4 linked regions of the Homo sapiens genome follow. The protein of the gene in region 1 interacts with the protein of each later gene in a pairwise test. Each region holds a gene or a part of one and is shown in the gene's direction. Other genes may lie near its edges. The genes, in order: HTRA1, B4GALNT4, FAM107A and CTNND2.

Region 1 (7,022 bases):
AGATGAGGAAATGGAGGCTGCTCAGTGGACTGAGGCTGGAACTGGGCCTTCCAGTGGCCAGGCCAGATCCTCCTTGATCTCCCTTGTTGCTTTCCTGGTGGGAAGACCCTGGAACCACTTTATGTGACTGTGTGAGAAGGGAACTGCCTCTCATTTTACCCAGCAAAATCCACCTTCAATCCATCTTCATTTTTGCCCCTGGTGTGGGCAAATTCTCCCATACCTAATTCAGGAAGCCAGAAAGAGGAAGTGAGTTAATGATCCTTAGTGGGAAGGCGCTGGTAATGGTCCTTCTTGTGAGAGTTTCTGAAACACCACGCTGTCTCTGTGTTCTGGCCTGGCTGGAGTTAAACCTCTTCTTGGCCTTTCCCCAGGAAGCTGGTCTGAGGAAGCCCAGATGCGTTTGTTTACAGCTGTCTGGTGACATTCGCCAGGCTCTGTTTTCAGAAGGAACATTTCCATTCCCTTATTTACACCTCCCATTGGAGTGCTCGGGGGGACACACCAATTATTTGCAACTACCTGGAAACCTAGGAGGGTAGCAGATCTGTAGGAGGCCAGTGTTGAAGTGAGAAGCTGTAGATCTGGTGACACTGTGGGCTTGGGAGGGCTTGCCCAGATCTGTTACTTATACTCTCTATTAAGAAACTTCAGTGTCCATGGAGAAGTTATTTAAAGTCTGCGAGCCTCAGTTTCCCCATATATAATATGGGAAGGATACCTGATTTTCCTATTCCACATGAAGGTAGAAAAAATTAAATTAAGGCAGCCAATGAAAGGGTTTTGAAAGCAAAAATAATAATATGATACTGTTCTGAATTTGTTAAATTATTCTTCCAAGTAGTTGCAGATCTTTTTCTGTACCTTAGAAAAAAACCATGCTATGTAAAAGGAGATGATTCCAATCTTTAAATAAAGCAACTCAGAGGTCAGGGGCTAGGACAGAAAACGGCCCTTTGTTCACAGAAGCGCTCTCACTTCCAAGAAAGCAAGCGTGGGAGAGGCAGGTGGTCCTCCCGATGTCCCTGTGCCCCATGGTGTCAAGCTGGGTTACTATGGCCCTTCGTGACCCAGTGCAGCAGGGATGTGGGAACCAGTGGGTGTGAAGCTGTGACGGGTCACAAGAGGGCTGGGACGTCTCACAGCTTTTACTTATAGCCTAGAGCCTGGGGAAGGGTTGCCACTCTAGTGATGAGAGAGGCGTGTGTGTGTGTGTGTGTATGCGTCTGTATGTATGTGTGCATTTGCATGTATATATGTGTGACTGTATGTATGTGCACATCTGTGAGTATATGAATGTGTGTGGAAGTGTGTATAGGTGTTTATGTGACAGTTTGTGTGTAAATGTGGGTGTATGTGTGGGTGTGTTTATGCATGTACATCTGTGGGTGTGTATGCATAGTGTGTATGTGTGAGTTTGTGTGTGTGTGTGCATTTGCATCTCTGTGTATATATGCATGTGTGTTAGGGGCAGGCACACAGGCCTGTTGGTAAATGAGACACAAAATACCTACAAAATACAAAATGTGAGACAGGAAATACAAGCCCCAGTTACTCATTTTTCAGTGCAACAGACATAAGATTACCATGTGAAATTGCTATGAAAGTTTCCGAAAGCTTCCTGTCAATTCGTAGTGAGCAGCTAGCAGAGGAGTGCGGGTCCCTGGAGCCTGCTTGTGCAACGCTGAGCTAGTCCAAGGGGGAAGAATGGGGTGCATGGCTCTCAGCTGCAGACCAGCCTGGAACCTCTCCAGCCTGCTTTAGCAGAGACTTGTTAAGAGGTAGCAGCAGGTGGCAAGATTAGGAGCCGGAGTAGTAGGCTAAGGCTGCACTTCCAGGGACACACTGCCTCTGCCACCACCCGTGCCACGAAAATGGGAGCCCAGGACCCTGAATCTCTAGCAGTCCGTTTCTGAATCAGTTACCTTGGGTATGTGCCTCTGGTTGATGGAAACTAACTTGTAGCCCTGCTGGGTGAGAGCCTCACATCGGGACATGTGACAGCTTTGTTGAAAGTAGCTTTGGAAACGCCCACCACGTGGGGCCACTCACTGTAATATAAACGGTCATGCATCACTGAGCAACAGGGATACGTTCTGAGAAATGCGTCGTTAGGCGATTTCATCACTGTGGGAATGTTACAGAGTGTGCCTACGCAAACCTAGATGGCAGAGCCCACTCCACACCTAGGCCAGATGGCAGAGCCTGTTGTTTCTAGGATGCACGCCCGTACAGTAGGTTACTGTACTGAATACTGTAGGCAGTTGTAACAATGGTGAGTATTTGTGTATTCAAACATAGAAAAGGTATAGTAAAAACAATGGTGTTATGGTCCGCGGCTGGCTGAAACGTTATGTGGTGCATGACTGTAGGTATAAAGCATTACAGTTGTTTGATTTTTCTCTTTTTCTCACCCACAGTCTTAAGGCACCTCTTATGCCTTTTGTCTGGGATGTCCCGGGCAGGGTTGGAACGTGTGGTTAAGGCATGGCGGAAACTGCTTTGGGGACAGACGATGGCCTCAGCTTGCCTTGGGGTGTCAGTGGGAAAGATAGGAGCTGCCCCTTTGCCTTCGTGTTTCTTCGTAATAATCTCAGATGTACCCGTCTGGTGGGCCTCTCCTAGAAAAAGCCCCGGTGCTCTTTGCTCCTGCGGTGTTTCTCAGGAGGGTTGTTGCTTCTTTGTAATGGTGGGGACTCAGGGAAGGGACGCAGGCAGAGGGTGATGCCACATCAAAAAGGGACCCTTGGCTGGGTGTGGTGGCTTACGCCTGTAATCCTAGCACTTTGGGAGGCCGAGGCAGGTGGATCACCTGAGGTCAGGAGTTCGAGACCAGCCTGGCCAACGTGGTGAAACCCGGTCCCTAGTAAAAATACAAAAATACAAAGGTGGTGGGTGCCTGTAATCCCAGTTACTCAGTAGGCTGAGGCAGAAGAATCGCTTGAACCGGAGAGGTGGAGGTTGTGATGAGCCAAGATTGCGCCATTGCACTCCAGCCTGGGTGACAGAGTGCGACTCCATCTAAAAATAAACTGAAAAAAAACAAAAAACAAACTTGGGCCATCAGCTTCTTGGAAAGGCTGGTGTGAGGTTGAAGCATTTGCTGGTGCCTCTGCTCAACGTTTTTGTGGTGAACCTGAGCAAAGAGGTTATCATTAGTGGATTTTACTGCCTTACCTGGGTGGGCACTCCCTTGGGAGGTGGATGGACATTTGCAGCTGAGCCCAGGTGGGGGAATTGCGCTCACTCCGCCTTCAGAATTCCAAAGGCTGGGCATGCATCTTGGCTTCCTCTAACCCATGTCTTTCTCTAGGTGGCCACAGCAGAGTGTCATTAAGTATCTATTCTTTGCTTTTGTTCTCAGGGCAGGAAGATCCCAACAGTTTGCGCCATAAATATAACTTTATCGCGGACGTGGTGGAGAAGATCGCCCCTGCCGTGGTTCATATCGAATTGTTTCGCAAGTAAAGAGAGCCTTCCTTTTTCCTATAACCTCCGAAGCTTTCACCGCCACTAGCAAAACATGAGAGCTATTTTTGAGATACATTAAAGTGTCAAAGTGTCACTGAATATCTTCCTACTTAAGATAAGTGTGTCTCCCTTAGAACATTTTCCCTATTCGACTATATAAATCTACATTCTTGACCCTTCTGAATGTTTAAAGAACCTCGGGCTCTGAAGAGATTCTCTAAGAATATTTTGTAAGTGGAAGTTTTTGATGCATGCAAAAAATTGGCAGGATGTTTAGTGTTTAAATGCTAAGCCCGATATATAAAGGAGCGATGGCTAGGTGTGTGTGGCTGTTGCACAACCCATTAATCAATGCGTTGAAGCGTTCATTTTAAGGTGCTACAGGCTTAAGTGTGTACTCCTTTGGATTTTAGGCTTCCGTTTTCTAAACGAGAGGTGCCGGTGGCTAGTGGGTCTGGGTTTATTGTGTCGGAAGATGGACTGATCGTGACAAATGCCCACGTGGTGACCAACAAGCACCGGGTCAAAGTTGAGCTGAAGAACGGTGCCACTTACGAAGCCAAAATCAAGGATGTGGATGAGAAAGCAGACATCGCACTCATCAAAATTGACCACCAGGTAAGGGTGTTCTCGCCTGCAGAGGTGAGTTCTCAGATGCCCCGGAACACCCTTGGCAAAGGCACCAGAGCTCTCTGATTGCAGCTGATTCTCGGGGGGCACTGAAGCCAGTCTGAGCCAGTCACAGGAGGGCCTTGAGGAGATGCTGAGTATGGCCTGGGGGTGTGGGAGAGGAAGGGGCTCAGGAAAACTTCTGTAAGGAGCCAGATAAAAGTTTTTAAAATAATGTTTTAAATGTTTGTCAAAGAAAGCAATAGATTTGTAAAGAAATTAGTAGGTAAGTAGTGAAAATTGATTCTCCTTCCCATTCCCAATCCTGTGGCAACTCTTGTTACAGATTTTATTTATCCTCCACAGATACATCATGCGTTCACAATGAACATAGAATTTACTGGGTTTTAGACTGAGCCATCCTTAACTTGTCAACAGTTACTTTGAAAACAAACCAGCTCTCCCAAATTGGGGTTTTGCGGGGTTATGAGATGTGTTTCAAAAGAATGTTTCGTACTTTAAACATCTTGGAAAACTTGAATTAAAACAGAGCTAATGGATTTCTTCTTTCCAGACCTTCTCAGAGCTTTTAGTATGCTAGTGTGCACGTGGCTTGCCTACAAAAGGGTGTTGACTGAACTATTTGCCCAAATTATAATCATTTGAGTATACAGCTTTTTGTGGGGGCAGGCAGAACTGAGACATACCAAAATCAGTTTGGGAAATGCTGTATTTGAAAATGCTTTCTATTTAAATATTCTCTTTGCAATCATTTTTGCTCTGTTGATTTGCTTAGCAAAGTCTTCATGTCTGGGACAATATCCATTTCTTACTGACTCATCAAAAACCCCCACTCGACACGTCGATGAGAGAGGTTTTGTTTGCTGTGTGGCATGTTCAGTGAAAGCGTGGTTTCCAGTTTCTTCACATCCTTATAATTTTCTAGACTTCAGATGGAGGGAACAATCAGAGGAGGCTGGAATCCTGCCTCTGACCAAGGAAAAGACCAGAGGCTGAGCCAGGTGGGGTCTCTTGTCCAGCCCTCTGCTTGCCTCGCTTTACCTGGGTGTGGGCTGAGTAATTCCAGACAAGCGTGGAATTAATCTGGCTGTTTGTGCTGTTCAGTGGCACGCTGGTTACACCTCCTTCTGGAAACAACTCTGCGTGTGCTGTTTGGGTGGTAGGATTCCGGGTCTCCTTCTCCGTCTTTTTATAACATCAAGTTGCTGCCCAGCTCAGGCTCCTTTACGGCCAGTCTTCAGAAAACCACCAGCTAACACATTTACTACCCTCCTTCCCCGATGTTCCTGTAGCTTCTCTATGGCTGGGTGGCCAGGCATGGCCGAAGAGGCTCTGGGTAGATATAGGCTCTGTGCCCGGTGTGTGTAACTGGCCTTGAGTGAGGCTGCAGTTGTGTGTTATTTCTATTAGGTCACTGTGGAATTTCTAGCGACAACTAATCTTTCAAAGTGTGTTTATTGGTCACAGGATTATTGGGCCAGCCTCTGCCTTCATTCTTTTTCACCTAATCTGCATAATAGCTGTGTTATCCCCATTTTAGAGAAGAAGAAACAGGGGCTCAGAGAAGTCTAGTAACCTGTGTGAGGCCACACAGCAAACACCTCATGACCCTGCCCTCCTAAGGCAGCCCATGGCTACTGCTGGAGGGATAGAGGCCGGCCCCGTGGTTTGATGGGACAGCTTGACCTTAAACAGCCCATGGGAAGGCGGGTGCATCTGGTTTAGGAACAGGCTGCTAGAAAGGTATCCAGGATGTGGTAGTCTCACCGGAAGGAGCCAGTCAGAATAGCACAGCCTGTGGCCACGCGTGGGACCTGTTCAGCCTCATGGAGCTTTGGGAGGCAGCCAGCAGCAGGGCATGGGCTGTGTGCAGGCGAGGCGCTGGCCTGGACGCCGCCCCCACTGCGTAACTTCGTGTTTGGAATGCGTGGGCACATACCGTGCGGCTGCTTCTGGCCGGGGGATATTCTTTTCCAATTTTGAGCCAAGGTGGAGACTGTCTCCTCGTGCCATCCCTGGCATGTCCTGGCAAGACGTGAACGATCTCAATAGACGAGCTTTGCAGAGTGTGTCTGACCTGACTCCTGCTGTCTTGGGAGTTTAGCTCTTCAGCCAGCAGCATGCTGTTTGACATGTGTTTCAAGCCCCCCAAGAAAGGGTGCTTGAAATTTAAAATTGAACTGATGTGGCTTTTCAAAATGGAATTGGAAATGAAAGGATATTAAATTGCAGACACCCACACAAAAGACTGGTTTCCACTGACTAAACTGCTTTTTTTTGCTGATAGTAGTTGAAAGTAGGGAGAGTAACAGCATCTCTTCCAGCTTTTTCTCTTTTGTTCCCTTGTTTTGATGATGGGTTATTTCGGGGGAAGCTCTGGCTGGCCTTGCTTTGTGTCATCTTAGGGATAACAAAGAGGATGAAAGAGATCAGGAAAACCGAGAAGGCAGAACAGAACCAGCAGAAACTGTGCTTGAGGAATGAAAATCACCTACACGGCTCCTTGTCATATGAGACTGTGGCCCAGCCTCCTGCAAAGCCATTTAAGAGTAACCCAGTGAAGCTGGTGAGACTGCCTGCCGCGTCCGTGGGCCCAGTGACTAACTCGGTGGCTTATCATCTGGGCCCAGCTCCTCCCCTGGCATCCTGATTTCACTTGGAGGGGCCCCCGTTGTCCTTCATAAACATGTTTATTTCATTTTATTTTTATGTTTTGAGACAGAGTTTTACTGTTGCCCAGGCTGGAGTGCAGTGGCGCCATCTCCGCTCACTGCAACCTCCACCTCCAGGACTCAAGTGATTCTCCTGCCTCAGCCTCCTGAGTGGCTGGGACTACAGGCGTGCACCACCATGCCTGGCTACTTTTTGTATTTTTAGTAGAGACCGGGTTTTGCCATGTTGGCCAGGCTGGTCTCAAACTC
Region 2 (7,886 bases), on another chromosome or scaffold:
CACGGCAGCGCCACCTGGGTGTGGGAGGCCAGGCCTGCACGACAGGTGCAAAGGCAGGTCCTCACCTGGGTGTGGGAGGCCAGGCCTGCACGACAGGTGCAAAGGCAGGTCCTCGCAGGGCCGAGCAGCAAGCAGGATGGAGGAGGAGGCAGAGTTCCGTGGACGCCCCGGCCACGGCCGACCGTCTAGCTGATGGCCAGGCACTTGGAGGGGCACGATTACAAAGTTAGAGATGAAACGGTCGGGGTGAAGGTATGTAGACAGACCTCTTGGGGTGGGCAGAGCATAAAGAATTTGTGTGCAAAGACCTGTCTCAGCAGAGGAGGGACCCTAATAGTCAGACGGACAAAATGACCCATTTGTGCGCATCAGGCAGCCTCTTTCCCCAGCTCCCCTTGTCCTGAGTCGGGCCAAGTGGCTGTAGCAGTGGGAAGCGGATTACCCTGGGCACCGCGCAGCCAACAGCGGAGACCAACACTGGCCCCTTCCTCCACCATGGAGGATGCTTGTCCCAGCAGGATGGGCTCCCACCCCAGCTGTGGATGGTCAGTGCCCTCAATGCCTCTGCCCAAACCACCACCCCACACATTCAGAGCTCCTCGTCCACCCACGGGGTGCTCCTCATGGCGGCATCGCCATTGTCCTGGGGACAGCAACCGGCCGGTGCTCCTGGAACCCACAGATCTCGCCGTGTTCCTGATGGAATGGCCTTTGGGAGGCTCAGTTTTGGCACCAGCTGAGTGACAATGCTGTGGATCTGGGGTCCTCTGGATGCAGCGGATCCACTGAATCAGCACTTAATCTCTGGCTTTTCCCAAAGCCGGGGCTCACTGGTCCAGGCGTGGAGGAGTGGAAACCCCAACTTCTTCCCATTGTCGTTAATCCCCAGTGAGCCACAAGTGAAAGTTTTGCCCCCTGCAGTGTTGCACGCTGTTGGTCTAGAGGCCTCAGATTCCCAGGGACCAACTCATCCCAGTTTGCTTAAGACTTTGCCGGTCTTATTTTCATTTTTTTATTTTTTATTTTTTTGAGGCTCAGTTTTGCTCTTGTTGCCCAGGCTGGAGTGCAATGGCACGATCTCGGCTCACCACAACCTCCGCCTCCTGGGTTCAAGCAATTCTCCTGCCTCAGCCTTCCTAGTAGCTGGGATTGCAGGCATGCACCACCATGCCCAGCTAATTTTTTATTTTTAGTAGAGACGGGGTTTCTCCATGTTGGTTAGGCTGGTCTCGAACTTCCAACCTCAGGTAATCCACCTGCCTCAGCGTCCCAAAGTGCTGAGATTACAGGCGTGAGCCACCGCGCCCAGCCGACTTTCCCAGGTTTAAAACGGAAAGTTCCATGTCCTAGGAATCCCCTCGGTCCTGGGAAAGCCCTGGAGTGTTTCCACCAGGGGACACGTTACGCAGGAAGCTGAGACTGCCCACCTGGACGCCGGTTCCTCACACCAGGGGGTCGACAAAGAAGAGGGTCCCTGTGCTGGTCCGGCTGACTGAGCCCAACAAGGGGAACTTGGAACCTGATCACAGAATGGGGCTAAGGGGGAGAAATTTGGGAGGCAGGAGATCGTCTGTAATATCACGTAGCTCCTCTAAGCCTTGCAGAAAACACCACTGGAAAACCAGAACCACCCCATAAGGCAAAACTGCTAACAGCATAGGCCTTTTGGGAAGGAACGTTTGGGTCACCCCACCAGACAGTGAACCACGACCAGCAGAGGTGCTTGCAGAGGGCAAAGGGACCACGCAGGAGTGACGGAAGAGCGTGGCCATAAAGACTGTACCAGCCACGACCTGGTGACCGTAGAAGTGAGTACTTCTTATCCTCACACAAGTCACACTTGTACTGACATTATCCGTTCTTCCTGCTTTTTTCCTCTTCCATTGCCCTCCTAGCTGCATAAAATGCGTTAACAACAGTTAACTTTACATTTCATCTCAGTATTTGTGTCATCCAACCCCCAACATGCACTTTGCAGTGTCAAGTGTTAAACGCTCTTAGAGAAACTAGAAGAACGAGGATCGTCTTCTCAAATGTGGATAACATGACACGAACCTTTTGTTCAGTCCCTTCTGGTTGGAATATTTGCATCATGTTACGTAGAAGCATGACTTTGTTTTTTGCTTTATTTGGAAGTTAAATGTGTTTTTTAAAAGAAGTGTGCGTCTGTGCTGAGTTGTCAAGAGGAGGAACCTGCCAGGTTGTTCTCTCTTTTTTTTTTTTGAGACCGAGTCTCGCTCTGTCACCCAGGCTGGAGTGCAGTGGCGCGATCTCGGCTCACTGCAAGCTCCGCCTCCCGGGTTCACGCCATTCTCCTGCCTCAGCCTCCGAGTAGCTGGGACTACAGGCGCCCGCCGCCACGCCCGGCTAATTTTTTGTATTTTCAGTACAGACAGGGTTTCACCGTGTTAGCCAGGATGGTCTCGATCTCCTGACCTCGTGATCCGCCCGCCTCGGCCTCCCAAAGTGCTGGGATTACAGGCGTGAGCCACCGCGCCCGGCCAGGTTGTTCTCTTATTCTAAGCTGGAGACCCATTTCCCAGAACCTTCTCCTCTGTGGCTGGGTCACACCGAAGTGAGGCGGTGGCCGTTCTTCTCCAGAAGGGGCCGAGACGGATGTGGTAGCATATGGAGCATCTGCGTCCGGCAGATCCCAGCTCGCCCCTCAATTGTACCTACTATGCTTTGGATCCACAGGGGACACCCTCTGACTGTGGACCCATGAAGTGTCCCAAACACGTCTCTCCCGACATTGCCAACACTTGCCTTCTAAGAACCTGTTTACGGGTCAGGCCAGCCGTTGCCTCCCCAGAGAGCGACCCTGGAGCGGGAGCCGGCCTCCCTCCATCACCCAGCTCATCTCCTTCACGTCACTCACCACCAGCAAAGCGACTATGCGTTCACTGGTCTGTCCCTGCCTAGTAACATGTAAACTCCATGAAAGGAGGGCCCTTTTCTGTCTTGCTCACTGCTGTGTCCCCTAAGTCCCTGGCTCGTCAGGACACTAGAATACTAGGTAGCGTCCACTGGCTGGATGAATGTGCCTAGGATGGGGTGCCATGCAGTGGAAAGAGGGAAAGCATTAGACGCACAGCCAGACAGATGCACATAGAAAATATGGGACTTGGAGAAACAGAATGAGACACATAAAAGAGCACCACTGGCCGGGCACAGTGGCTCACGCCTGGAATCCCAGCACTTTGGGAGGCCAAGGCGGGAGGATCACTTGAGCCCAGGAGTTCAACGCCAGCCCGGGACACATGGTGAGACCCTGAATCTGTTAAAAAAAAAAATACAAAAAATTAGTCCGGCATGGTGATGCATGCCTGTAGTCCCAGCTCCTCAAGAACCTGAAGTGGGAGGATCGCTTGAGCCCAGGAGGTCAAGGCTGCTGTGAGCTGAGATTGCACCACTGCACTCTAGCCTCAGAGACACAGTGAGACCCTGTCTCAAAAAGGGGTGGGGCACTATATTTTAATGAATATGCAGATAACAGAAATATGAAAAGTGGACTGCAGGAGGCAGGAGATGAGGAGCTGATGGGGTGGGGGAAGGTTTGAGAGACCGGGTGTTGTTTAAGGGCCGGTATGAACAGCAGGATGTAACCAGCTTGCTTCTGTGCTCAGAAGTTAGGGGAGGAGGATGGAGGGGAAGGAGGGAAGGAGTTGAGGTCTTAAGAAGGCAACTTCTGGGCAATCTTCCATTGTGAGGTGGGGTCCACGTCCCCACAACCCACGAACTTGGGTGGCCGTGCGGCATGTGGCAAACCTGAGGGGTGACTCCAAGATGCTTCACTCTGTGTGCTGGACCGGGAGGCTGCCCCTGGCAGCTGAGCCTGCAGGCGCTCTGGCCAACCACCCGGGGTGAGCCCAGCCATTCCTGCCGAGGGTGCACTGGCTTGGGGCAGAAGTCTCTGGATGGCTCCAGCCTGTCCCGCGGAGCCGGCCCCACCACTCACGTCTTCCCACCGGAGGCCAGCACCTCGAGGAGCAGAGAGGAGCTGTCCCCGAGTGCCCTGAGTTCCTGACCCACAGGACACAGGAACACAGGAACGCTGCTGTTGGACAGCACTGAAGCTGGGCGGTTTGCTACACACCCAGAGACAGCTGAGCAGACAGAGGGAGAAGAGTAGGGTCACGCTGGCAGCTGGACAAGGGAAGTACTGGGGGGACAGAGGGACTGGCAGGGGTTGGTGCAGACCAGGTGAGAAAGGGCACGAAGTGGGACAAGGTCCCGGTGAGAGGCACGACACTGTCACCTGCCTCAGGCCGCGCTCGGTGGGGCGGGGGCCACCAGCTGAGGCCCCTCCTGCCGCCCAGACAGCTCGGCCCCCTGCGGCCCCAGCCCTGCAGGCTGAGATCCCGCAACGACTCCCACCCCTGGGCTGAAGCCGGTGCTTGGGCCCCCCCGCCCCCCGGCCTCTCTCGCCCGCCCCCATTCCCCGCCCCCCAGGACCCCGGGTCCCTCCCCTCCCTCCTCCGTGTTGTCCGCCTGCAGTCCTTCGGGTCACTGTTCTCGGGAGGCCGCCCCGCCCCACAGTCAGGCTGTGCCCATCCCCCGCCGCCCCCCACGGTCCCCGAGCCCCAGCGCTTCCCAGCCCCGCGTCTGTGTGCCGCGCCCCCGCGCTCCGTGGCCCAGGTGGACGCGCGCCCCGCGCCCCGCATCCCTGTCCGTCCCGCACCCCTCACCCCCCGCCCCGCACCCTCCGCACCCCCCGCCCCGCCCCGCCTCCCCTCGCCCCGCCTCCTCCGCCCCGCACCCCGCGCCCCGCCCCGCCTTCCCGCGCCCCGCACCCCTCCCCGCGCGCCGCCATTGGCTCCCCGCGGCCTGGCTCGGTCCGATTGGTTCCGCGCGCGCGGCCGGGGCCCGATCCGCGGTGGCAGCCGTGGATGCTGTTCGGTCCCGCCGCCGCCCCAGGAGCGCGGAGCCGGGAGCGGCCGGGCGGGGGGCACCGCGAGGAGCCGCCCCCGCCGCCCACCCCGGGCCCGCGGCCGAGGGCGGCCTGGGGGGGTCGCGGCCGCACCCGGTGGCCGCGCACGGCGGACAAAGGACCATGCGGGGCCGCGGGCGCTGAGCGCGGCGGGGCGGGCCGGGGATGCGGCGCGGGGCGGGCGGGGGCCGGGGGCTGCAGCGGCGCCGCTGAGCGCGGCCTGGGGCGGGCGCGGCGGCCGCGATGCCGCGGCTCCCGGTGAAGAAGATCCGTAAGCAGATGAAGCTGCTGCTGCTGCTGCTGCTGCTGAGCTGCGCCGCGTGGCTCACCTACGTGCACCTGGGCCTGGTGCGCCAGGGACGCGCGCTGCGCCAGCGCCTGGGCTACGGGCGAGGTACGGCGCGGGGGGCGCGGGGGGCGCGGGGGGCGGGGGCGGCGCGGGGGGCGCGGGGGGCGCGGGCGGCGCGGGGGGCGCGGGCGGCGCGGGCGGCGGGGGCCCCGGGGCGCGGGCCGGGCCTCCCACCGCACAGAGGTCTCGGCTGGGCCCGACCCTCCCGGAGACCCCGCCCGCTGTTCTCCGCTCTGCGATTTGGGGGGAGGGGGCGCGGTTCGGCTCGGCCCGGACGCTCGATGACGTCGGCAGTGACGCGCGCGACCCTCCCAGAGAGGGTCCCTGACTCTGGGATCTGGCTTGGATCCGGTAGTGAGGGGCTGACGGTGGGCTCCTGGGGAAGTCTCTGCCCCTAGACCCTGCTGAGGCTTCCAAGAGGCCTTCTCAGGCCTCGCCTCCACCCCCTGCCCGCTTAGCAGGGCCTCAGTTTCCCTGTGTGCTGGGGACCCGGGCCGGGGCTTGCTGAAGTGGCCGGTGCAGCTGGGACGCTTCCCGGCGGGGGCGCCTTCGGTGAACTGTGCCAGTGTTGTGGGGGTCCATGCGTAGGGATGGGGCCCAGCTTGGGGAGCCTGGCGTAAACTCTCCCAACCCCAACCCACAAACAAAGCAGATGGGGTCACGGTGAGCCAGCCGGGGTAGGGCCTCCTGGAGATGGTGATCTTTGACATACACCTTTGGGGGAAAGAGCATTCCAGACAGGAAGGCGCAGATGAAAGCCTGGCGGTGGGGTTGGGGGAGAAGGTGGGGCAGAATGCCCCCTCTGGAGGAGGGAGGTTAGTGCCATGCCCAGACCAGGAGAGACCCCAGCTGGCTGCCTCTGAGCCTTTTCCAGGGAGCCAGGTGTCCTGAGGGGGCAGAACAATGATACTGGCTGGGGACTCCTGGGCCACTCCACCTGCCAAAGCCCCTGTGTTCTCTTCCTGTACCGGGACGCCTGGACCCACACAGGCCAAGGGTCTGGGGCTTGTCCCAACCCACATACCTCACAGCTTCCACACCCTCAAGAGACCCCCGATACTGCTGAATCCCTAAAAAGCCCCACCCCAGCTATCAGCAGACAGGGCAGGATCCACAGCTGGCCCAGTGACACAGAACAAAACCAGCCCCCTCTGCAGGCTCCTCTGTGGTTTTCTGAGCAGCGCAGGGGTCTAAGCCCAACCAGGAGGGGGCGGAGGCATAGGGACCCCTCTTCCAAGGACCCCTTGAGGCTAAGCCAGCTCCGCCCCAGGGCACCTGTACACTTGCTACCTCTGAGGCTAGGGCCAGGACCAGAGGAGCCCAACAGCTGCCCAGGGAGAGGGCGAGTGAGCAGACTGTTCTGTCGGGGGACCTGGGGCCCAAGTCAGGGGAGCCCTGGGGGACCCTTCCCAGATCTGCCTGTGGACATCTCTACTGCCTCCCCACAAGCCTGGGCAGGCCAGCTCTGCACCCCAGCCCTCTCCACTTCCTGGACCTCCCTAAGCTGAGGACCTAGACATCCCCACTGCAGCCCCAGGGGGTTCCACGCCCTGGGATCTGAGCATCTGTAGGGATGCTTCTCTTCACCCCAATTCTGCCCCTCCTGGTCCTCCTACCCAAGGACACTCAATCCAGGGCCACCCTCTGCTCCAGGGCCATGCCTGGGCGTCAGCATCCATGCCTGTTCCTCAGTCCAGACTTTGAGAGCTCAAATCCTTCAGGAGAGACTACAGTCCCTGGCACTAACCCTGAGTTCTCAGTTCTGGTAAGGGAGGCAGACGTGGAACACTCCAGCACACAGAGAAAGTGCTGAGGGCACAGGGCAGTCCTGGGGTCTTCCTGGAGGCAGAGCCACTCAACAAGAATGGCCAGATGGAGGTGCATGTGGGTGCCTACACACGCCAGCTGGCCCACCCGGCTTTCCTCCCTCACACCTGCTGGAGGTTGGGAAGAGCCTGCTGGAAGGCTCAGCCTGGGCTGCCCCACCAGAGGTGGGGTGTAGAAGAAGTTGCCTTGCTGGGGGGAGGGGCATCTGGTGGCAGAGGAAGCAGATGAGAAGGAGAGGCTTTAGTGAGAGACACCACAGCCTGCCTGCCCTGCTCTGGCCATGTGGGTCCCTGGCCCAGCTGAACCCAGCAGCAGGCAGAATGGCCTTGGAGAGAGCCTGGGCCCGAGACAGGCCTCATGTGCCACCTGCAGATGGTGAGAAGCTGACCAGTGAGACCGACGGCCGGGGGGTCCACGCTGCGCCATCCACACAGAGGGCTGAGGACTCCAGTGAGAGCCGTGAAGAGGAGCAAGCGGTGAGCAGAGCCCTGGGGAGAACACGTGTGCACGGAGACGAGACCCCGAAGCCACTTGTGTGTTGGTGTCTTGAGAACCTGTCCATTCTGGAGGACGCAGCAGGGGGCATGAGACACAGGACATGTGGGGCACGGCACAGCTTGTCTGTGTGAGCTCCAGCACCAGCCATCCTGTCTGGAGCTCTGTGTCTGGGGGCTGCAGCAGGTGCATGAATGTGCCGGCCGGTCAGTGTGTGGGGTGGCCAAGCATCTGCTTGGGCTAGAGTGACCAGGGTGTCTGAGTGTATGTGCCAGGTGCCACAGG
Region 3 (7,022 bases), on another chromosome or scaffold:
CAAAGTTGGCTGACTCTAGGAATCACCTAGGGAGCTTTTAAAAATCCCCAAAGCCAAGCCGCCCCCCAAACCCATTAAATCAGAATCCCTGTGGTGGGACTCAGGCACTGGAATTTTTGAAACTTCCTGTGGTGATGCCGATATGCAGCCAAAGTTAAGATCCACTGATTTAACCAGTGTGGTTTCTGAGGATGAGAAGGCTCCATCTAGGACTAGGAATGGGATTTATTAATAGTGATTGTTAATAGCAGCTAACAGGGTGGTCACACTGCCATTCCAGGGGCACCATTCACAGTTTAATCTATAGGAGTTGAGGACTTGCTGTGAGGTACCCAACCAGCCTGTTGTATGTGGCAGCCCTGGTAGCCAGCCCCAAGCGCTCAACTCTGTACGAGGCATTTGCCAAGCACCTTGCAAGTATCACCTCGTTTATGATATCACAAGTTCATGGAGGAGGATTCTAATGTAACGCTCATTTTGCAGAGGAGGAAACACCAGATCAAAAGCAGCTGTCCCATCTCAACTCTGCTGTTCAGTGGGAAACAGCCATAGACAATAAGTGGGCGTGGTGTGTCCCAGGGCTGTGGGATTTGGTCCAAAGGCTGTAGTTTCCAGGCTCCAGCTCCAGAGGGTAGGGAGGCATGGACAGAGCTGACATTCGAATGCAAGTCTGAATGGCTTCAGCCTCCCTATGCTACTGCTTCCTCCTGCATTTCTTTAACAGCCATGAAGAATACAAACAAGCCACTTACCTTTCTCCTTCGTGATTGGCCCGCTCCTCCTTCTCCCTGCTAGCTCTTCTCCTGGGTGTTCACCTTTTTCTTTCCAGAGAGGACATGTCTAATGCCCACTTCCCCTCTTAGCTGCTCCACAGCCACTCCCCGGATGGACCCCAGAGTCTTGGATCTCTCGGGATGCCCAGAAGCCTTGGGAACAACCCCAGTCCTCTGCCTCAGGAGGCCCAGCTGACCGCCCAAGACAGCCTGGATTTTCTTGGCCTGCCACCTGTGCTTTATTGAGTAGTCTCTTTTATAACAGGACCTGCATGAGGTTCTTCCACCCAGAGACCTTGGTTAAATAAATTAAAAGGCAGAAAGGCTGGCTCAGCTTTCTAAGTCCTGGGGGTCCCCAGCAACCCTCCTCACCCCACCCCTCATAGGTGTATACGTGGATCTCACAGGGGTTGTTTGCTGGGGTTCAGCACCCTGAGTGGCAAAGGCGATGGTTTTTCCCCTGCAGCTCTGAGCTAAGGCACCAGCCACATCCCTCAGGGTTCCTGCCTCACCCACCACACCAGCCTGGCCTCAGGGAAATACCATCATCCACAGCTCACTGCTGATTTAATTAATTTTTTTTTTAAGGCCTGGAGCAAGTCATTGAGCCAGGGCTGACCACAGATTGGAGCTGGGGTGCAGGACTGGCTTCATAATTGACAGGGCCCAGTGCAAAATAAAAAAGGAGTGCCACTTGTTCAAAATGCATTTGGAATTTCAAGACAACAACAACAGAAGGTCAAACCAAACAGGGCCCCTCTTCCAAGGGCAACCCTGTGTGACTGAGTCCGACCGTCTGGCCCTGGGGCAGCCAACCCACTGGCTGGCCGGCAACTTACGTATGGGGCGAAGGTCTCAGCCAGGTCAATCACAGATTTTTCCCCTGGAAGTTAACAGAAGAGACAGAGACCACCCATTGGAAGTGAAGGAAACCAAAGTCAAAACATCCCAAGGCCTCTGATGGTTTCCCCACACAGCAGCGAGAATAACCTTTTTATAACTGAATCAGGTGCGCCTTTCCCCGACTTGAACCCACCCGTCCACCCTCACTCCAGGCGCTCTCCCAGTCTCTCAGCTCACACCACTCCCAGCACACTATGTCTTTTTGTTCCCTGAACAGACCCAGCTTGTTCAAGGTACATGAGTCACACATGCTGTTCCCTAGGCCCCAAATGGCCTCCTTCCTCATTCTCAACTGTCAGATCTTAATGTCGCCTCCTCAGAGAGGCCCTCACCACACCTGGCTGACAGCGGGTCCCTCCTTAGTCTCTATGGGAGCCTGGAGCCTTTTGTGGTCTTTCGTTTTCATTGGCTTGTGTGTGTGCTGACTGTTGGCCTCCCCAGCAGAGTGTGGGTTCTGTGAGCGCCGGGATCTCACTTGTTTAGTTCTCCTCTGTGTGTCCAGTGTCTACCACAGTGCCAGGAAAATCACAGGAACTCGAACATGTGTGGAATGCATGACTATTTTTATTATTACGCACTTTCTCAGTGGTCATTCCCGTTACTCAGGAGCTCTTGATTTTGTGTACTTATTTTGTATCTGGCCACATTCTTGAACTCTCTCAGTTTCAAATGCGTTTCTGTTCATCCATGTGGGAATTCTGGGTGTATGGCTTTATCTATACAAATATTAAGGCTGCCATCTCCTTTCCTAAAGTTATCCAACTTATTCTATTTCCTACCTTATCACTTTGGCAACATACAGTGAGTTCTTTTAAGGATGGTGTGGCTGATGAAAAGCAAGCAGCTCTGGAAGATTTGGGGGGCACAGAGGGACTAAGAACAGGTGAATAGCTGGGGAGCCAAAGTAGTTATTAAAGTGTGGCATGAGCTGAACAGGAAGAGAGCTGAGGTCACGGGAAGGAAAGAGCGTAGCTGAGAATTACTCAGTCAAAGGATGGGCGACACTTGACAATAGGAATAGGCAGCAAAAGAGAGAAGATCTCAAAGCTCCAATCTGAATCCAGGTGTTCTAATACGTAAGCACCCAGAGAGCTTGATCCCACAGACAATAAAATACCCACACTAAGGAGTGGGAGCTGATACAGCCAACTATGTATTTTGTCGAGTGCCCATTTTAAAGTAACTCTAAGTACTATTATGATCACTTTTTAAGGACCAAAAAATTAGGAAGGATATAACCTGAAAGCAAACAGCCTTATGAAAAAGATGAGAAAAAAAGGGAAGTTAATAAGAATTCTCATTACAGAAATGGTTCTGAGAATATGAATTTGAGAAAAAAATTAACATGTCTATCCTCTGACACTTCACCTGGCTACATCCAAAATACCTTATAATAATTAACACTTTTTCCAGGTTACACAGCACCTTTACGTATGTGGTCTTACTTGCTCCTCCTAACAGCAGCCTGTGATGGGTCATCATAGAAATGCCAAACACGGGTCTGGTGGCCACCGTTGCAAAGTACAGTCTCCTGTTTTATGCCCAGATTCCTGACATATCACCTTGCAACGTGCACCCCGTCAAACCCCCCTCTCTGTATTTTCTGACCCCAATAAGCTGTTTGCCACTTTCAGGTTTTCACACATCCCTGTTCATCCATGAAACTGCATTTGGGCAGAGAATGGTTCTCATCCCCTTCCCAGTGTGGGGGAGGAAATGAGAGTCTGTCCACAGGCAACATGGTGGCCCTCAAGCAGGGGCTGAAGCCTGGTGTTTGAAATGGGGACACACTCCCTCAGTTGCCACATGAAAATCACATGCCACCGGGCACTGGTTCCCCAAGACCAAAGAAAACTTCAAAAGTTGCATTGGCAATTACCAACAAATGTGTATTGATCGCCTACTGCATACCAGACCAGACACTGCCAACTGTCAGGGCCTGGCATATAATAGGAGCTCAACCTCTGCAAAGCTAGACTCATGAAGAGAGCAGAGCTAAAGTCTAAATTTTCACTGAAATTCCTATAAGCAGCTAATGGCCAGGCAGTGTCTATACCTTTGAGGCCTTTTTTTTTTTAAGTCAGTCTCTTTCTCTCTCTCTCTCTCTCTCTCTCTCTCTCTCTCTCTCTCTCTCTCTCTCTCTGCTGTATTTGCTTTTGGGCATTTCAAGGATAAGGAGCCAGTTTGTAGAAGAGGGAGCCCTTGTGTCTGAATTTTAAGTAAACTGACAGATTTCAAACCGCTGTGGTAGAAGTGGGGCCATTGAGTAGCCAAACATTTGACAACTATCCCTTTGCTATTAGGGACACAGCAGTCTCTGAATTTCATGCTCTCCTCTTTGATGTGAAGAAAATGAAAAGCTGAACAGTTGTGGAACTGTGGATAGAGTTAGACAATAAGGGTAATACTTTCTTTTTATCACTGCATTTATCCAAATTGTTTTTAACAAGTACATGTTACTCTTTTTAAATATATTTTCCTTTTCTGTTACAAGCTCATTGAAAAACAGAAACTCAAACATAATTCCTTTTATAGTGGGCGAAAACTGTTGCAAAGCCAGGCCAAAAATATGCATGTGTCAACCCGTATTTTGTGACCCGTTATCATTTTACTTCTATACTCCAGACACATCGCAAACATCATCTCCAATTCTGACAGCCCTGTGCATGCGTTCCGTTATGATTTCCATTTTATAAGTGAAGAAACTAAGGCTCAGAAAGTCAGGTAGCTTGCCCAGGTATGCGCAGTAGCAGGTGGCCAAGGTCCATCTGACATGAAAACCTTGCCCTTCAACTGTGTCCCATGGGGCAGGGTGAGATTATAGGCTCAGCTCTGAGCTACTCCTCTGCCCATCTCTACAGCCGCCATGTACTCGGAGATCCAGAGGGAGCGGGCAGACATTGGGGGCCTGATGGCCCGGCCAGAATACAGAGAGTGGAATCCGGAGCTCATCAAGCCCAAGAAGCTGCTGAACCCCGTGAAGGCCTCTCGGAGTCACCAGGAGCTCCACCGGGAGCTGCTCATGAACCACAGAAGGTAGGGATGAAGCCCTGCTGCCTGGGCCCCGCAAGCACCTGGGCCTGTGGGGGATGGGGAAGGTGACCCTGGAGGAAAGCAGAGCTGGCTTTCATCCTGGGGCTCCTGGAGACTGAGGAAGGCTGAGGTGCCCCACATGATCACCGGCAAAACCTGTAAAGACCCTGTCCCCAGTGGGTCCCTGGGAACCAGAGGGACCAAAAAGCCCTGTTCTCTTGCCCAGCCACCCATTTCATGCCCACACTCCAGATACATTTACTGAGTACCTACTATGTGCTGGGCACTGAGCCCAGACCTGGGGATACAAGAATGAATGGGACCCAGTTCCTGTCCTCACAGACAGGGACGGGTGCATAGCCAGGCAGTAGGATGGGTGCATTGATGAGGGCATAAATAGGCCTGAGACCCCAGAGGAGGAACCCGAGAGGGGTCTAAAATGACTTCACAGGAGCGGTGCTGCCTCAGCTATGACCTGAAGGGGGACTGGAGTTAGCCAGGCCGGAGGTGGGTGCTGGATGGCAGAGGGAACCTCATATGTAAATGAACAGGAAACAGGAGTCACTCACTGTGCCTGGGGCATCGATTGCGTGGTGCAGGCCAGGGCAGAAGGATGGACTAAGGAAAGGTCTACAGCAGGGGCACAAGGTGTGGTGGGCCCGTCTGGTGAGGTGGGATGGGGGAGCTCACAATACCAAAGTGGGCAGGAATGTTACAGAGGCCCAGGATGGTGGCTGGCTTTTCCGTGGAAGGCCGTGGTGTGCAATGACAGAGACGAGCCAGAGGGGCATCTGGGAGGTGGCAGGGGTGGGATGGGGCAATTGATGGGATGTGAATTGGAGAAGAGGAAGGCTGAGCCTCCCCTTGGAGGACTGGGAAATACTCCTGCTAACCAGTAACAGCGTGAACGCAGCGGTGCCTTCAGAGCGCCCTCTGCTGGCCGATTCTGGTATTAGAGCCGGTTGTGATTTCTATTCTTGTTTTCAGTTGTGTGACCAATATCCTAACAGTTATCATTTTGTACACTGAGTCGCTTTTGTTTTTGTTTTCAATTAGTATTATAATATGAGCATTTTCTCTGAATGGTTTTTAGACTCGTCCCTTTAATATCAAAAAACATCACCACAATCAAAAACAAAAGCTTAAAGACAAATCAGAGAAAGTATTTGTAATATAAATAAATTTTATTTTTAAAACTCACATATACAAAAAAAAATTCAGATCTCTTGTTTTTTTTCTTTTTTTCTTTTTTTTTGTTTGAGATGAAGTCTCGCTCTGTCGCCCAGGCTGGAGTGCAGTGGCGCGACCTCAGCTCACTGCAAGCTCCACCTCCCAGGTTCATGCCATTCTCCTGCCTCAGCCTCCCAAGTAGCAGGGACTACAGGTGCCCGCCACCACACTCGGCTAATTCTTTTGTATTTCTAGTAGAGACAGGGTTTCACTGTGTTAGCCAGGATGGTCTCGGTCTCCTGACCTCGTGATCCGCCCTCCTCGGCCTCCCAAAGTGCTGGGATTACAGGCGTGAGCCACTGTGCCTGGCCCAGATCTCTTACAATGGACAAGGAAAAAATGAATAAAAAGTAATACAGTACAGCCAGACATGGTGGCTCACACCTGTAATCCCAACACTTTGGGAGGCCGAGGCAGGAGGATCACTTGATCCCAGGAGTTCAAGGCTGCAGTGAGCTATGATTGCACCACTGCACTCCAGCCTGGGCAACAGAGCAAGTCCTTGTCTGTAAAAATAATATTGATAATACAGTTAATTCACAAAAGAAGAAATGCAAATGGCTGGTAAACATATCAAATGTTGTTCCATGTGACTAATAAAGAAACAAATGAAAAGCAGATATTCTTTCTGGCCTACCAGATTCTCAAATATGAAAAGATTGGCTGGTGATGGTGGGGAGAAATAGATGCTCTTGTACACTGTTCAGAGGAGGATACACTGGATAACCTTTCTCAGGCACAGATAGATATATGTACCTCAAATCTTTTTAAAGAGCCTGACCCAGCAATTCTACCTTTAGGAAAGTATCCTAAGAAAATAACCAGAAATAACATAAAACTTGGTCTCTGCAGTCAAACAGGCCTGGGTTCAAATCCTCATGTGGCCTACCTGTAGCTATGTCTTGGACTGGTATCTTCAGCCCTAGGAGCCTCAGTTTCTGTCCCTGTAAAATGGGACAGTAATGGGTCCACCTCCAAGGCTACAGGGAGGATTGCACAAGATAATAATGGGGGTTGGTGTCACCGCAGGAAGCAGCCCTGAGGCTGGGGGAAGCGGGAAGGTGATGGTCTCCTGACAGCTCC
Region 4 (7,022 bases), on another chromosome or scaffold:
GTTTGCACTGCCAGATCCCCAAAGAATGAGGATTGAATAAATTTTCAAGTTCTGAGAATTGTCCCCTTATGACTCCTCTGCCATTCCTACTCCCTCCATAGAAGATTCAGCGTGAAAGAATCTGGAAGCAAATGTGCTTGGCACTAAAACGAGTGCCACTTTCTGGTTTAAGAGTGCCATATTCTTAGGGGCTCCTACTCCCCCAAAGAACAGTGTCTTAATTGTGGCCAGATAGTATTCTGTACAAACAAAAATACTCCATCGATAGATCTCCAAAATAACATCAAAGTAAAATACTCCATATAAGGGAATTGTTGAGAGCTCTTCAAAAACAAACTCCTCATTTGTACATGGTGTAGACAGGTCAAGCATCCCTTGTTTGAAATGCAGGGGATCAGAAGTGTTTTGGATTTCAGATTTTGGCGGGGGGCGATTTTAGAATACTTGCGTATCCATAATGAGATTTCTTGGGATGGGACTCCCCCCCAGTCTAAAGACAAAATTCATTTGTATTTCATACATAACTCATAGCCTGAAGGTAAGTTTATATGACATTTTAAATAATGTTGTACATGAAACAAAGTTTATGTACATTATACCATCAGAAAGCAAAGGTGTCAGGTGTAGAATTTTCTACTGTGACATTCATGTCAGTGCTCAAAATGTTTGGGATTTTTGGATTTCAGATTTTGGATTTTCAGAGTAGGGATTCCCAGACTGTAGTAGGCTCTTCTTAATGGTTTATTGAGTCAGTGAGTAAATTAATGCATCAAACTTGAGTACTGTTCATTAATGGCTGTTGGAATAATGTACATATTCCCTAACTTCCCATTTCAATATTTTTTCTACTATACTTTGTAAATACATCCTCCCCTTAAACAGTTCTATAAAATAGATATCAATGCATCTACAATTACACAAGAGGCCTCAATATACCACTAAGTACACACACACACACCATGTAATGTAAAAATTGTGACACTGAATATATCCTAAATCTGACCCATCTGAAACATATGTATACAGATAAAATAATTTGTAATAGCTTTGATGAGTTAATGTTCCATATTTTTCTTGAAAAATTTCCCATAAGGGAAACAAGAACTGAACTACACTTAATGTGCACCATACTCTACCTATCAGAAACTGTTGAATCAGAACATCTCCTTGATGGGGTTGTTTATCTGTGAACATTCTGCTTCCTTGTCCATTTCTCGTAAATGGGTTCCTCATTTTGAAGGAGTGGGAAAGACAAATAAAGTTGCCCTCGAGGCTGAGACTGATCCAAAGAGCTGAGAATGAAGACAGAGTCAAGAATTGTCTCTGCCAACAGCCTAGATGGTGTGACCAAGGATGGGGCCCAATCTATTCCAAGTATATCTAAATTTGTTATATCATTATTTTTATTTTCAGAGTCACACATCAATAAAAAATTATTTCAACTGTCTTTGCATGTACACACACATTTCCAAATATCTGCAGGGAAGCAGTATGTAGTAATCTTTAGTTTAAAAAAGGAAAATGAAACTTTACTTGAATTCTAACTTTAAAATCAGATTTGCAGCTTTATAGTGCTAACATACTTTTAAGGTAGAATTGAACTCTTGTGACACTAAAGTGAATACAATTCTGTATGTGTTGGAATGTGTTTCGATTATCTCTAATGCAACGATGGGTAGTAATAAACTGTCCTATGATTGTGCAGCTGGCTTGAATGACAGCCTCAGGTAACCTTAACTGACAAAGAGTTACTAAATCAAATTCGGTAGTGAAAGAAAACATAAGCACAAGGGTGAAAAGAGGCTCCCCCAAATTTTGTTTTTATTCAAATGATGCTACAAAACAAATTTCTCTGTTTAACCAAAGAATAGTTCTTAGGCATTTATTACTCTATAAGCCATTGAAATGGAGTATAGCACCCCTGGTTTATTTATTGTAAACTGCAGAGGAGCTTAGACAACTGTGCTGTCCAAGAAGGTGGCCACTAGTCACATGTGGCTGTTTAACTTAATTAAAGTTAAGTATGTACTGAAGTTCCTCAGCTGATTAGCCACATTTCAAGCTGTCAATCAGCCCATGTGTTCAGCGGTGCCATATTGAGCAGTACGGATTGAGAACATTCTCTACGTTGTAGAAAGCATTGCTGGTAACACACCAGTGTAGCTGGTGCTCCTGAGAAGGTGCTCTAGTTGATAATGGCTTCTTATGCAAATGGATTCAGGAGGCTTTTTTGGAAGTGCATTTTAGTACACAGTGGACAATACCACTTACTATGTTAAACAGTATATAAAATTTTATTGTTTATACTTTTCCTTTTTTCATGCCAAAATTATTAGCACAATTTTACCAAGATCCTATAATATCTAAAAGACTTTCAAATTGGTTGCCGTAGCTTGTCAAAATGTCTACAGCTCATGTGGCAGTTGTCAAGACTTCTACAGATTTGGGGTGCATTTAAGAAAACATAGGAGACAGTCGTATTCAGCACTTAGTACACCTGAGACTAGATGTTTTGACAGATTACAAGAAAAATAAAGTATTTGTAAAAAGCATTAAGGTTTTCACAGGATATATGTTCTAATATTTAAATATTAGAATGAATACCGACTTAATATTCTCATTTACATTGGTATGCTTTAGTTAGTATTTATTAAAAATTATGCTATTTGGTAATGGCATCGTTAGTGTACTCTAAGGTTGTTTTATTAATGTTACATAGCCAAGACATAACAAAAAGTTTTTGTTTTGTTGTAAACAGGGAGCAGAGAGTGCTCCTGAAACCTTAGAGAAAGGGTTCTTTCTTCTCATTTTGTTCCTGTGGGAAGGGTTTTCAGAAATTTTTGTCGGATGCTTTTCCATCACTTGCCAGCTGTGTTCTGCATGGCTGAGTGTTGCTCAGGCCCCAGTTGATAGGGAACCCCAGTAGAGCTTCAGAAGAAAAATGTCTGCAGCTTAGTGGTAGTTCTCAGAGCAACAGCATTTGCCTGCTCTGGGAGATTGTTAGAAATGCAGACTCTGGGGCCCACTCCGCACCCTCCAAATCCAAGTGTCTTCTGGAGCAGTGTTGGCAAACTTTGACCAGCACCATAATCACCCAGAGTACTGGTTAAAACCCAGATCCCTCAGCCCCTCCCCCAGAGTTTGTTCAGTTTATGGTGGGGGTATGATTCTGATTGCTCTGATTCCTCTAGAATTTTTTTTTTTTTAATGCTGAAAAGACCATCAGGGACCTCCCTTTGAAAACCACTGCTCTAGCGGGACGTGGGACTCATGCTTGGTTGCACAGTGAAATCACCTGCTGAGCTTCCAAAAAAAACTGATATATGGTCTCACCTTCAGGGATGCTGAATTAAATAGCAATGGTAAGTCATGAGTATTGAGATTTTTTTTAAAAGCACCCTTGGAGATTATAATATACAACTAGATTTGAGAAGCCCAATCTATTTAATACATGTTTCATGCTCAGAGCTGCCACTGGGAGAGAAGCAAAATTGCATCAAAGCCACCCCCTCAATGACTCTGGATGAAGCTAGACTATTTCTCTGGGGCTCAGAGTAAGCACACCCACATCTGTAGTGTTCGTTACCCATCCTCCACATATAAGACCCTCATAGCCTTGAGACTAACTTGAGGAACCATTCCACAAATATTCCTGGAGTCTCTGCTAGGAATCAGGCCCTGTTCTAGTTGCTGGGGACACAACATTGAACAAACTCATGGAGCTTACATTTTACTTTCACTCTTAACATTAAAATAATTGCTTTATGGATTGCATGTGTGTGTGAGAATATTTAAAATATATATACCGTACATAAATACATATGCATACACATACACACACTCTGCATAGAGAAAGTCTCTCACCAAACTGTTTACCTCCTATGCCAGGCTGCTCCTAATAGAGAATTTTGATGTTGCTCAATTAACTCCTTCAGATCTGCATATGAACTTGACATCCCAGATAAAATTTGGAATGCCTGTGTATGTGCAGTGAAAGTGCCCAGTCTATTATTTGCCAATTGCCATTCCAGAACGGGTAGAGAGGCATAATTGAAACTTTTAATGGCTAGCATCTGTTCAATCTTCTCTTCCTCCCTTCCCTCGATCTCTCTGGAGTCCTCCTCCCCACCCACCTCTCATCCCTCATTTCAAATCCCTCCTTCCCAGCTTCTCTCCAACTCTGTGTACAATCCTACTCCCTTTTCACACCAGCAGGCTCTCAAAATCCTCTCTGCTCCCCGGGGAAAGCCTGGAAGATCTGAGACCTCCTGCCCAGAAGTGGTTGACAATGTAGTGTTTTCATTCGAATGCAAATTTGTCTCTGGACAAGATTCAAGGAAAGTGCTTTCCCCTCCAACTGTCTCTCCAGCTCCTCCCCAGCCCTTGTTGTCTTTTGTGTTCTTGTAAATAAATGAGAGGCGAATGGCTTTCAGTTTGAAGACACAGCTGCAGGGGGCTCTTAAAGGGAGCTAGAGAGAGAAAGATGCTGAAAGATTGGGAGCCCAGTATTAAAATCTAGAAAAGGGAGGCTTTTTTAGCATTCTCATTTCCAATTGCTCTAATTCCTCTAGATTTTTTTTTAATGCTGAAAAGACGAAGCGAATTCATTCTGACTTAGTATTTTTCCCTCCGTTTAACTTTTCATTGTCCAAAAAGAAGAATCCACGCGACAATAGCAACAGAATAAACTGTAAGAAGTATGTTTATTCTTGATGTTCTCCAGATAAGTATGTAACTCGGCCAATCTCAGAGGTAGAAAGTGTATCTAATGAAATGACCTGGGGCAAGGGTGGGGAGTGGGGGACAGAAAAAGATTTACTGCCCGAATTTCTCATTAAAACAAACAGATTGTGATTGCGACCAGGGAGATCATGATTGCCCTGTCGGGGTGGGGCTTTAAAAATCTTTATGTGACTAATGCGATGCTTCTGCTATTTCCGAAATAACATCTACATGTAAGCAAACACAGGTCTCATTTGTCAAACGTGACTTCCCTCCAGTAGTCAGCTGGCCTGTGCCAGTGTCAGGACAAGAAATCCGCCCCAGGAGAGTTCGGGGCGCAGGTTCGCGTACTGCCCCGAGCGCAGCTGGGATCGCAGAGCCGCCGGGCGCCCGCGGCATCCCCGGTGTGCCTCTGCTCTCGGGGCCGGGCTGGGCCGGGTGGGCCGTGTGCTTCTCCCTCGCTAAGTGCGCGTGTTCTCTCCTCTCCCGGGCACAGGGCACGACCAGCCGCGCCGGCCACCTGGCGGGGCCCGAGCCCGCGCCGCCGCCGCCGCCGCCGCCGCGGGAGCCGTTCGCGCCCAGCCTGGGCAGCGCCTTCCACCTGCCCGACGCGCCGCCCGCCGCCGCCGCCGCCGCGCTCTACTACTCCAGCTCCACGCTGCCCGCGCCGCCGCGCGGGGGCTCCCCGCTGGCCGCGCCCCAGGGCGGTTCGCCCACCAAGCTGCAGCGCGGCGGCTCGGCCCCCGAGGGCGCCACCTACGCCGCGCCGCGCGGCTCCTCGCCCAAGCAGTCGCCCAGCCGCCTGGCCAAGTCCTACAGCACCAGCTCGCCCATCAACATCGTCGTGTCCTCGGCCGGCCTGTCCCCGATCCGCGTGACCTCGCCCCCCACCGTGCAGTCCACCATCTCCTCCTCGCCCATCCACCAGCTGAGCTCCACCATCGGCACGTACGCCACCCTGTCGCCCACCAAGCGCCTGGTCCACGCGTCCGAGCAGTACAGCAAGCACTCGCAGGAGCTGTATGCCACGGCCACCCTCCAGAGGCCGGGCAGCCTGGCAGGTAAAGGCTCGCTGCCACCTGGCGCGACTCACCTGGGCGCGTGGCGGGGACGCGGAAGCAGCAGCCCGGCTTGAGCAGAAGCGAAGCCGGGCGCGCTGTCTGCCAGGTTGTAGTAGTTGCAGGAGACAGAGAACGCCAGGGCTTTCCTGGAACAAGTCAGTATCTTCCCTACAGTTTGTCAGTGACTTCTTTTCCGGAGTAATGTGGTGTCTCAATCTCTAACACCTATATCACTCTCTTCTCTCCTCTCTTCTCTCTCTGCCCTCTCCCCAGCCTAAAGACTAACTCATAAAAGTAAGACACATTTAGGAAAGCATCCCATAGACCTGTTGATGGTATCCAGAAAAAAAGCAAAACAAGTAACAGTTGCAGTATTGACAGGGTCACCTTTAGTTGTCTACATTTCATTGTGGAAAAAGTAAGGGATTTTCTCAAATTAGACGTTCAGCTTACATAGTTTTCAATAGTAGTGGGGAAATAATTAATAATGAATTGCCTTGAATTATTACCCTTTTGTTTTGGCTTGAATTTATTTACATCTTTGCTAAATTAGTTATTGGGAAAACTAAAGGACTCTCCCATACCTGTCATTGGATGTACTTGGGTCCTAACATTTGCGACAAAGTTAGCAATGATGAAGTCCCTTAAATTTGTACCTGCTTTATTACAGGGAGGGAGGGGCTGGGCTTGGGGAGAGAAACCTGCTTTCCTCTCCCAGTTTAGAGGAGGTGACATTTCTGTGGTCGTTATGCCCGTCAGCGACCAGGCTGCGCTGGTGCCTCTCTGCTGTTAGCACCATATGCTCAGCTTAAACAAGACACCATGATTGAAAGACTAATGTTTTGTCTTCTGAAACACCTGACAACTAACCCGGATTTATTGTGAATTTTTTTTCCCTTACAGAAGGATTTGGTAATTGTGTCACTCTAGTAACAGATGCTGTGCTCATATGCTTCCTTTCTTGACACAAATAGATGACTGTGAAGATAAATAGGATTTAAAAAAGGAGCTTGTTGCATGCATGAGGCAGGTGGCCAAGGGCTTCTTTAATTCAGCACAGTAATTGCCAGTGTGGACTGGCCTGGCCTAACAGGATGCAGGCTAGGGTGCCACTGCCCACAAAATTATGCTAGCTACGTTTACTGAAATGAAAATATTCTCTCACTCACTGCCTCTCTCTCAAATAGAATTTTTGAGGTAGACAATTATTAGTGCCAACCCAGTATGAGTACCTAAATC

What was found.
Region 2: the proteins of HTRA1 (region 1) and B4GALNT4 interact in a two-hybrid assay, tested with the Homo sapiens proteins (one study listed by IntAct).
Region 3: the proteins of HTRA1 (region 1) and FAM107A interact in a two-hybrid assay, tested with the Homo sapiens proteins (one study listed by BioGRID).
Region 4: the proteins of HTRA1 (region 1) and CTNND2 interact in a two-hybrid assay, tested with the Homo sapiens proteins (one study listed by IntAct).

What each region holds. Positions count from the first base shown.
Region 1 is NC_000010.11:122,485,538-122,492,559, forward strand, and holds part of HTRA1 (serine protease HTRA1 precursor), read left to right. Parts: intron 1-3,364; coding exon 3,365-3,464; intron 3,465-3,884; coding exon 3,885-4,089; intron 4,090-7,022. UniProt on the Homo sapiens protein: Serine protease with a variety of targets, including extracellular matrix proteins such as fibronectin. HTRA1-generated fibronectin fragments further induce synovial cells to up-regulate MMP1 and MMP3 production.
Region 2 is NC_000011.10:364,631-372,516, forward strand, and holds the start of B4GALNT4 (N-acetyl-beta-glucosaminyl-glycoprotein 4-beta-N-acetylgalactosaminyltransferase 1), read left to right. Parts: upstream 1-4,868; 5' UTR 4,869-5,173; coding exon 5,174-5,324; intron 5,325-5,576; exon of another isoform or gene 5,577-7,044; intron 7,045-7,478; coding exon 7,479-7,582; intron 7,583-7,886.
Region 3 is NC_000003.12:58,567,381-58,574,402, reverse strand, and holds part of FAM107A (actin-associated protein FAM107A), read left to right. Parts: exon of another isoform or gene 1-1,068; intron 1,069-1,612; exon of another isoform or gene 1,613-4,077; intron 4,078-4,537; coding exon of another isoform or gene 4,538-4,542; coding exon 4,543-4,712; intron 4,713-7,022. UniProt on the Homo sapiens protein: Stress-inducible actin-binding protein that plays a role in synaptic and cognitive functions by modulating actin filamentous (F-actin) dynamics. Mediates polymerization of globular actin to F-actin. Also binds to, stabilizes and bundles F-actin.
Region 4 is NC_000005.10:11,383,426-11,390,447, reverse strand, and holds part of CTNND2 (catenin delta-2), read left to right. Parts: intron 1-5,218; coding exon 5,219-5,783; intron 5,784-7,022. UniProt on the Homo sapiens protein: Has a critical role in neuronal development, particularly in the formation and/or maintenance of dendritic spines and synapses. Involved in the regulation of Wnt signaling.